Linked DNA regions of Homo sapiens. The protein of the gene in region 2 interacts with the protein of the main gene of each other region in a biochemical or structural test. Each region holds a gene or a part of one and is shown on either strand. Other genes may lie near its edges.

Evidence for each region.
Region 1: the proteins of CCDC88C (region 2) and FZD6 form a complex in vitro, tested with the Homo sapiens proteins (one study listed by BioGRID).

What each region holds. Positions count from the first base shown.
Region 1 is NC_000008.11:103,329,429-103,333,996, reverse strand, and holds the end of FZD6 (frizzled-6 isoform a precursor), read right to left. Parts: intron 4,343-4,568; coding exon 3,932-4,342; intron 2,657-3,931; coding exon 2,488-2,656; 3' UTR 1,131-2,487; downstream 1-1,130. UniProt on the Homo sapiens protein: Receptor for Wnt proteins.
Region 2 is NC_000014.9:91,270,694-91,275,790, reverse strand, and holds the end of CCDC88C (protein Daple), read left to right. Parts: intron 1-2,137; coding exon 2,138-3,166; 3' UTR 3,167-4,468; downstream 4,469-5,097. UniProt on the Homo sapiens protein: Required for activation of guanine nucleotide-binding proteins (G-proteins) during non-canonical Wnt signaling. Binds to ligand-activated Wnt receptor FZD7, displacing DVL1 from the FZD7 receptor and leading to inhibition of canonical Wnt signaling.

The sequences.
Region 1 (4,568 bases), on a different chromosome or scaffold from region 2:
TCAACATGACTTACCTCTCTTTTGACTTTGATCGCCTTCTGAGTAGTGAGGTACCTCTCGCTGAGTTTGTCAGGTTTCTCCACTGTAAATGCTACTCTCCCTGTACCACCTGTACTTTGGATTCTTTGGAAGGAAGTCACTATGTGCTGTCCATTCTTATAGGTGTGTAGTATCTTATTGTTTTCCTTGCTTGTACTTTTAAGTTACATGATGTGTATCTAGTAATACATCAGCAGTACCTGGGGATCTTTTTCTCTTGCTTGTGCCAATTCTTGTTCATGTTTTAATGAACAAAAAATGGTCTTTTTTGCATACCTGATTGTTTGATTGTATGATGAGCACTGTGGTACTTTTAGAGTATATAAAATAACATTTTCTTCCTCCAGAGAAGATTTTCATTTACCTGGTGCTTGAGCTACCTTAATCTAATTTCAGGGTTTGAACTTTTTCTATCTACCCAGACAACTTGAAGCAGGGCTGCTTTATGTACAACTCACATGTACTTTTAAGATCCAACCCTCTGAGGTCACAATTCTAAATGTAGGGTGGTTGCAGACCCCTTGTCTTCCAGCCCTTTGAGGCTGTCAATAGCACTGTTCCACTTCTCAGCTGCCCTTTCCAAGTCATCAAGTGCTCCTGGGCAAAACAGCTCCAAATGTTGGGCTTTGTAGTGAGAATTTCTCTCTTCTCCCAGATCTTAACCTGGCAATTCCTCACTATCTTATTAGTTTTTTAATGTTTGGGGTTAATATTATTTTATTTCTTTTTTTCCCCCATCACAGAAATCTGCCTATTGTTTTATTTCATCCACATATTCTAGCCTTCTGTTTTGGGAGGTTTGTCTGTATCACCTAATACACTGTTAGGAGTGAAAACTGGGTCCTGGGTTCCTTTTGCTTCACCCCTCACACTCCAGATCTTTCCCACTGGCTTTAAAAAGTTACAGTTAATATAGCTTTATAATTTACATTTTTGGAAAGAAATAGTGACAAAAAGCAAGAATCTTGACTGCATTCTCCTTCAAGGTTAAAAAGAAGCCTCTGACTTACCAGCCATGGAGTCACTAATCTAAAAAATTATACTACTTCCTTGGCCAGAACTACTATACCTAACCACAGAATACTCCATAATTCTTATACAAAGATAATTTTATTAATGAAAAGATCACACAAAACAAAGTTTTTGTATTCAAAGTTGTCTGTTTAAAATGTGGAAAAGGTAATATTTACAACATTTCCCATACAGTACATAGTTTTTGTGCCTTAACAGAATGCTAAATAGAGAAAAAAACCAAAAGCAAATGCTAAATTGAGAGAAAATCAAAAGCATCAGAAAATCTTGCCCAAAGAATAATACTTAATAGGAAACAAAATTAAGAAAACTCCTTAATATTTTAAAGTATGTTGTATAAAAACGTTGTGTCTTGTTTATTAAAACTACCTTTTTTCCATTTGATTGGCACTAATATCGCTATCACACTTTTTAATGTTCAGCAAAATCCTAGTGAGCTGCCGAAATGAATTCTACAAAATGTCTGAGAAAGGTACTGTATAATACAAAATGTAATATTCTAAATGTTAAAAAACAAAAGTTAAAACAAAAAATATAAGCAACTGTAAGTGGTTATAATACAATCAATGGGTGGTCATGAAACATTAAAAAAGGGAAGTCAATTGCACTTGGCCTAATATACAAAAGACTAACATTTTGTCTACTAACCCTTTAGGACATTTTATTTTAAATATGCAGAAGGATCAGTGAGCAGCATAATACAATCAATAGTGGACACTCTTTGAGTAAGCACCTTATTTCAGTTACATAATTTAGATCTGTGAAATTCCTAAAACGAGACTATAAAAATCACACATTTTAGATGGTAAGGTATCAATAAGTGGGTTTTTAAAGTTAAATTCCTATTATAAGACTTTTTGGTATATCTTTTTTTACAGTATAAAAGAAGACTATTTTACAATTTTCTTAGAAATTCAGTGTAAAAGCTACCAAAGTGCTAAAATATCACAATAGCATGATAAAAATACTTGAATAGGATTTCAAAAAAGTTCAAATACATATAAGCTTATTTTCAAATATGTATAAAAAGATACAAGGATAAGATTTAAATACTTCAGCAAAGAAATATCTTGATTTTATATCAAAAAAGTAAAATAGCATAGTACATCTTAAAATACTCTTACCAAGAGTAGAATCTTCATAAATAGAAAAGGAAGATTCCTCTAACTCTGTCCTCCCACACTATTAAAAAAATATTATTAACCTGCACATTTTCTGTTTTCAGGTATATTGTTGTCATTAACCTTTGTGTGAAATGAGTCATATTATTCTTGAACTCTATTTTTTCCAGTATAACAGTAGGCAATGCAACTTTAAGTGCAAAAGAAGAATGTAACAGTGATTCTTACAAAACAGTGCATAGGTCACTTCCAGTGTAACACAAATTTGCTTCTGAGTAACGAGAGAAAATGTTCTTCAAGTATCTGAATGACAACCACCTCCCTGCTCTTTTCTCACTCCTGAAACCGGGTGAACAAGCAGAGATGTGGAACCTTTGAGGCTGCTTGGTTCTGAAGAACTGGGGACCTGCAAATTGTTGCTCTGTGCCAGGCCAGTGTCAGTAATATCACTCTTTGGACTAATCCTAGATAAAAGAAAAAAAGTTGACACACACACATCCACAAACACAAATATGATGCCATTTTTCATGAGTTTCACCCCTAACCAGTGTCCACCTTTATCAGAGAATAAATAGCTAACAGTCTTCAGGTGTACTTTAACACTTCAAAATACAAATTTTTTTTTTGAGACAGAGTCTCACTCTGTTGCTAGGCTGGAGTGCAATAATAGCGTGATCTCAGCTCACTGCAACCTCCACCTCTTGGGTTCAAGCGATTCTCCTGCCTCAGCCTCCCGAGTAGCTGGGACTACAGGTGGGTGCCACCACACCCGGCTAATTTTTTGTATTTTCAGTAGAGATGGGGTTTCACCATGTTAGCCAGAATGGTCTCGATCTCCTGACCTTGTGATCTGCCCACCTTGGCCTCCCAAAGTGCTGGGATTACAGGCGTGAGCCACCGTGCCTGGCCAAATAATTGTTTAAAATATAATTTTCACTTACTTCAGAAACTTCATCAAGCACTACTTATATATATAGGGCTGAACATGGAATCTTGTGGGGAATAGAATAAGGCAGGATTCCTGTCCTCAGTTTAACAAATGTTTTATTGATTTCCCACCATGGATCAGTACCATGTAAGAAACTGGGAACATAAAGATGAGTAAGACTTTAGCTCTCCCATTGAGAAGGTTACAAATCTACGAGAAGATAAAGCATGTATCTAATTACAATCCAAATATATGAAAGCTGCCATAGGATCACAGAGAAGGTGCATTTAGCCTAGTCTGAGAGGACTAGGTAAGATAACCTTGAGATCTTAATGCAATTAGCTGTCTGCATTCTGGCTTACCTGTGTTTTGGTCACCTATGGCCATTTGAGAAAATTCATTAAAGATAATGTCAATATCTTTTCATGTTCAGAAAATAAAATAATTTTAGATAAAATGACACATTATAATTTTGTATAAGGTGACACTTTTTAGACAGAATTATAATGTAGTATTAATTAAAACTTAGCCTGTATTTTGGGTAAATTGCATTTACTTAAATGTACAAGGAACTCTTAACAATTGCCACAGAAATGAACATTCCTACTTGAACCACCTATATTAAAGCTGTTCTCAAAGCTAAGAATTAAACTACTAAATAGCATATTTATAGGCTGAACCCAAACTTCCTTGGGGTAAGAGTACAGACATAATATATCACAAAATGCTTTCCAAATGTGTTATGCTTTAATAAAAAATGTGTAATGCAGTATTTAAAATAGTGATGATTTTACATAAAATCAAATCTCACCTTCCTTCACTCCGCGCACTTTCAGATACACTGCCTGCCTGGCCCTTCCCGTCGACCTGTTCCCCAGAGAGTCTGGAGATGGATGCTGCTGGCGAGGCAGGTTCACCACAGTCCTGTTCTCTTAACCTGGGGGTGCTAGCTCCGTCCGCTTTCACCTCTCTCATTGATGTTTCTGGTGAGGTTTGGATTTCTGTCAAAGTTTCTTGTCCTAGGTAATCATGGCTAGTAATTGCTACTGCAGAAGTGCCATGATTTGCTGTAGCTCCTGTGCTGGTTCCCATGGATTTGGAAATGACCTTCAGCTTGTGTGAACTTGGTTTATAGTGCTTCTTTTTGTGTTTAACTTTAGAATTGTGCTTTAAGAAAAACTCACATGATTCCTGTAGTACTCTTCGACTTTCACTGATTGGACTATAAGAAAATTGAAGGAGAGGATTTACTCAAATTAGAAGTGTGGCTATAAAGTAGAGGATATAAAGGATATCACATATCTTTTGCCAAAAATCCTTAGTCACTAAAGTTGAAAATTCTATGGTTTATATTATAAAATCTGGGATTATAAATACTAGGACATAAACTGATTTTATAAAATCTTTTGTGTATACACTCTAAGTTGCTTTTGTCAGTATAAATAGTA
Region 2 (5,097 bases):
TCATGCCTGTCATTCCAGCACTTTGGGAGGCTGAGTTGGGTGGATCACTTGAGGTCAGGCGTTCGAGACCAGCCTGGCCAACATAGTGAAACCCCATCTCTACTAAAGATACAATGAAACCCCATCTCTACTAAAGATACAAAAATGAACCGGGTCATGGTGGTGGGTGCCTGTGATCCCAGCTACTCGGGAGGTTGAGGCAGGAGAATCTCTTGAACCCGAGAGGCTCAGGTTGCAGTGAACCGAGATTGTGCCACTGCACTCCAGCCTGGGCAACACAGTGAGACTCTGTCTCCAAAAAAAAAAAAAAGAACTGCTGGTCTAATGGACTGAACAAGAACACTCCAGAAATTGGGGGGGCCCACAGCTGGAAGGCTTTCCTTCTCAGTCTTTTTTTGTTATATGCCCCTTATGATGCTTTCCTTTCCCTTTGGAGATCTGGCAGGCAGGTCCTGAGCAAGGAGTGGGGCCCCTCCCTGCTCAGCTCAGACTGGTCTTCACAGTCCCCATTCCCTGTGCCCTGTACTGTTACCTTTCCATTTTTAGCTTAAATGAGACCAAAACAGTCTGGCTGTAGCAGCTTCTGTTGAAAGCTGATGTCTGGCATGCAGCGAGCCAGCCCCCTCTGTCTGCCTGGTATATTTAACCCCCTACCCCTGACACACCTGACTTCCCTCCTGGTACCCCTGACACACAAGGCCCCTAATGTACACAGGGGCTTCCCATCCCAGGGAAATGACAACCGTATGCCCACCGCGCCCCCACTCTCTGGGCGTCGATGATGCAGGGAGGGCATGTCACAAGATGGGGCTCCCTGCGTGGCCAGGAAGGGTGGGTATCAAAGGCTCTGAGGTGTGCAGGGAGGAGCCTGGTGGAGTGGAAAGCAGCTCTGGAGTCAGGCAGCCATAGGCTTTCATCTGGGTCTGCCTCTCTGGACGCATGGCCTGCCAAACCTCCGTGACCTGTTTCTTTACCTTGATACAGCCTTTCAACAACCTTGCGAGGTCATTTTGAGAATTAAATGAGTTTCTTTGCAATTATACATGTGGTTCCCAGAACAGCACATGGCCCCACAGGTGATGAAAGGTACCTGTGATATCACGGGTCTTACTGGACGCCCACCCAAGATGTGTAGCGTCAAACTAGCATAAAACAGCAGATGTATCTCTGTCCAGTGGCACCATGTCCAGATGTTTGTGTGGGACAGGAGTTGCTGGCAGGTGCAGATGGCTCCTGAGCTACCAACCCGCCTTCAGGCTGACACCTGCCGGCCTCTCATCCCCCATGAACTCACTTCTCTTCCTCTTCATCCATGTCAGCCTCAGGAGAAGCTAGGCTTGCAGAAGGCTGCAGTTCCTGAGTGGGGCCATAGACCCTTGCCTCTGTGGCTCTGCCTATTCCCAAGGTGGTGGCAAATGACACCTGCTCCCTGGGCAGGGGAAGCACAGCCCGGGCGGCAGCTTAGCAGGGACAGTGTGGCGGCTGGGCCTTCCTGGTGTCTTCATTTCCCTGTGCAGCCCCACCATTCCCCCTTCTGGACCCTCGCGGACCCCATTTGTACCTCTCTGTCCCCCACCCCCTCCCATCCCCATTCTGCCTCTCTCTTCTCTTTCTCGGGCCCAGAGAGAGGTCTGAGTGGCAGTGAAGGTTCCGGCGTTTCAAGAGCTGCTCTTGTTCCTCTTGCTCTCGGTGGCGCAAGGTGAAGTCCTTATGATGTCCCGGGGTGACCGGGGAAGGAAGGCCCTGCTCATATCCGCCAGCATTCTAGTTCCTGCTGTGCTTGGTGGAAACCAGACAGACCGAAGCAGTCGGCTATAGTCGAGGTTTCTGGGAAACTTACTCACTTTGTAGGAAGTCATTTCCCTCTCTGGGTCTGTTTCCTTATCTGTAAAGTTAGGGGGTTGCCTGGGGGGAATCTGGGGTTCTTTCCTGGTGGTCCCATGCTGCCTTAGCCACCCTCACCATCCTGCCCAGGGCTGGTGTGTGTGGTGGAGGCGGCACATGTGCCTCGGAGAAGGCAGGCAGGAACTGCGGTCCCAGCCACGTGGGCTGCTCGGGGGCGTCCCGCGCAGGAGGCGGCTCCAAGGACCCACCCAACCCTCATGCCCACCTCCAACCTTCACTCTCTTCTCCGTAGGACACTCCCAGTTGCCGGGATGACCTGCTGAGTGACTACTTCCGAAAGGCCAGCGATCCCCCAGCCATCGGAGGCCAACCAGGACCACCTGCCAAGAAAGAAGGGGCCAAGATGCCCACCAACTTTGTGGCCCCCACCGTCAAAATGGCCGCCCCCACCTCGGAGGGGAGGCCGCTGAAGCCCGGGCAGTACGTAAAGCCAAACTTCAGACTGACTGAGGCCGAGGCCCCACCCAGCGTGGCCCCGAGACAGGCCCAGCCTCCCCAGAGCCTGTCTCTGGGCAGACCCCGGCAGGCTCCGGTGCCCCCAGCTTCCCATGCACCTGCCAGCCGCAGTGCCTCCTTGAGCCGGGCCTTCAGCCTGGCCTCAGCTGACCTTCTCCGGGCCAGCGGGCCAGAGGCCTGCAAACAGGAGTCCCCTCAGAAGCTGGGGGCTCCTGAGGCCTTAGGGGGCAGAGAGACAGGCAGCCACACCCTGCAAAGCCCCGCACCCCCCAGCTCCCATAGCCTGGCCCGGGAGCGGACCCCACTTGTGGGAAAGGCTGGCAGCTCCTGTCAGGGCCCAGGTCCCCGCAGCCGGCCGCTGGACACGAGGCGCTTCTCCCTGGCTCCCCCAAAGGAGGAGAGGCTGGCCCCCCTGCATCAGTCTGCCACAGCCCCCGCCATTGCCACTGCAGGTGCTGGTGCTGCTGCTGCTGGCAGTGGCAGCAACTCCCAGCTCCTGCACTTCTCACCTGCTGCAGCCCCGGCTGCCAGGACCAAGCCCAAGGCGCCCCCACGCTCAGGGGAGGTGGCCACCATCACCCCTGTCCGGGCAGGGCTCAGCCTCTCAGAGGGAGACGGGGTCCCGGGGCAGGGCTGCAGTGAGGGGCTTCCGGCCAAGAGCCCAGGTCGGTCTCCCGATTTGGCTCCCCACCTCGGCCGGGCCCTGGAGGACTGCAGTCGAGGGAGCGTCTCAAAGAGCAGTCCGGCCTCCCCGGAGCCCGGCGGGGATCCGCAGACCGTGTGGTATGAGTACGGCTGTGTGTGACTGTCTCGTGGTTGAGCTCGCAAACCTGAAAACTACTGACGCGCCTTCCGACTCTCACGGCCTTTTCTCTTGCTTGCCTGCGGTGCCAGGAGAGGGTTTGGAATGAGGAAAGGGGTTCCCACGCATTTCTGCTGTTTGTTCTGTGAATGGAAACACTGTGCCAAGCCCCAAGAGGATTACGCTTCCAGGTGTGTAACGTGTTTTCTGTGTCTGCCGCTTCCAGCAGCTGATATCTTTGGAACAAATAATCCACGTCAGCATGGGGACCAATTAGGATGCAATGACAAACTGACTTCCCCCAAAGCAGACACTACTCCAGTATGTCCCAGTAGAACACTCATTTGCAATGTGTTGAGCTCCGTTAAGCACACACACACTCACACAACAGGCTTACGAGGCTCAGGCCTGGCGGGTCAGAAAGCCCACTCCCTCTCCCAAGGCCACTGGATCCCAGGAGAAGCCCAGACTGGCGATACTACAAAGGTCTCCAGGGCCTGGCAGACCCCAGAGTCAGGCCTGCTGTTAAAAAGTGAGAGTGCTGCTGTTCCATTCCTGGGGTCCCAAGCACTTCCCTTTACCCCAGGACCCAGGGCAGCCTGCAGGGCAGCTGGCGGTGGCCTTGGCCATTTGCCCCCAGCCTCCAGCTGGCTCCTGAGCTCTGCACCAGGGGGTTTGGGGACCACACAGGCACCTGCCTTCCTAGATTTCCCTGGCTCACTTTTCTGCAAACACTGGATCTGCCAGGCCTGGGGATTGGGGGGCAGGAAAGAGGCCCCCATCCAGCCCCCTCCAGGCCAGTGTGCACAGTGCACCGAGGGGTCATCCGCACAGAGCGAGGTGCAAGCTCGATGTGTAACCTGGCTGCGGCACCCGACATCCCCGGTCTCGGGGTGTTGATTTATTTCTGAATAACTTTTTGGGTATAGAAACCAATTTTTTTTAATATATGACATGTATATGTACACACTCATGTGAAATATGTATACTTTGGGGGGATCTATTTATGTTCCAGTGGGAGTCACTCTCTTCTGTCGGGAATCTTATCTGCTGCTTTGTGTCTTTGGTCAGATTCCTGACAATTTAGTTTCCTGTTGTAAAGGTGCTTTTCCTGGGGTGAACTAAACCTATTGATTTTTTTTTTTTAAGATTTTTTTTTCCTTTTGATTTAATATACTGAGAAAGAAATGGGAGACTTTTGAATGTTAACAAGATCCATTTTAGGAGTGTTTGGGGTTGTGTATTAAATAGCCATTCATTCTGGAACTCAAGGACAGGACTGTAATAAAATGGAATGGAACCGAAGTGCGTTCTGGCTTTCCTCACTGCACATTGTTAGCATCGGGTGGGCCCCTGGGGACTTGGGGCTCCCTGCGCCCCTCCTTATGCACCCCTCCCTCTGCTCCCCTTCCTCTGTGCCCCTGCACCCCTCCCTCTGCGCCCCTCCACCCCTCCCTCTGCGCCCCTCCCTGTGCCCCTCCCTCTGCACCCCTACCCCTGCGCCCCTCCACCCCCCTGCGCCCCTCCACCCCCCTGCGCCCCTCCACCCCCCCTCTGCGCCCCTCCCTCTGCACCCCTCCCTCTGCACCGCTCCCTCTGTGCCCCTCCCTCTGCGCCCCTCCACCCCTCCCTCTGCGCCCCTCCCTCTGCGCCCCTCCACCCCTCCCTCTGTGCCCCTCCCTCTGCACCCCTCCCCCTGCACCCCTCCCTCTGCATGCCGGCGACCCTTCCTCCACAGTTGGAATCCACCACTTTCCTTGCCACTAGGTGGGGGAAGCTGTTACACGTGCAACCAGAGACAGATGTGAAGGACAAAGATTTCCTGTACGGTGACAGCTTTCCACCCCTCCTCAGGTGTGTTTAAGTTGGCATCAATTGAATCCTATTTTATTTGTTTTTCTAATGGGTCACCACCACCACAGGGGGCATGCAAT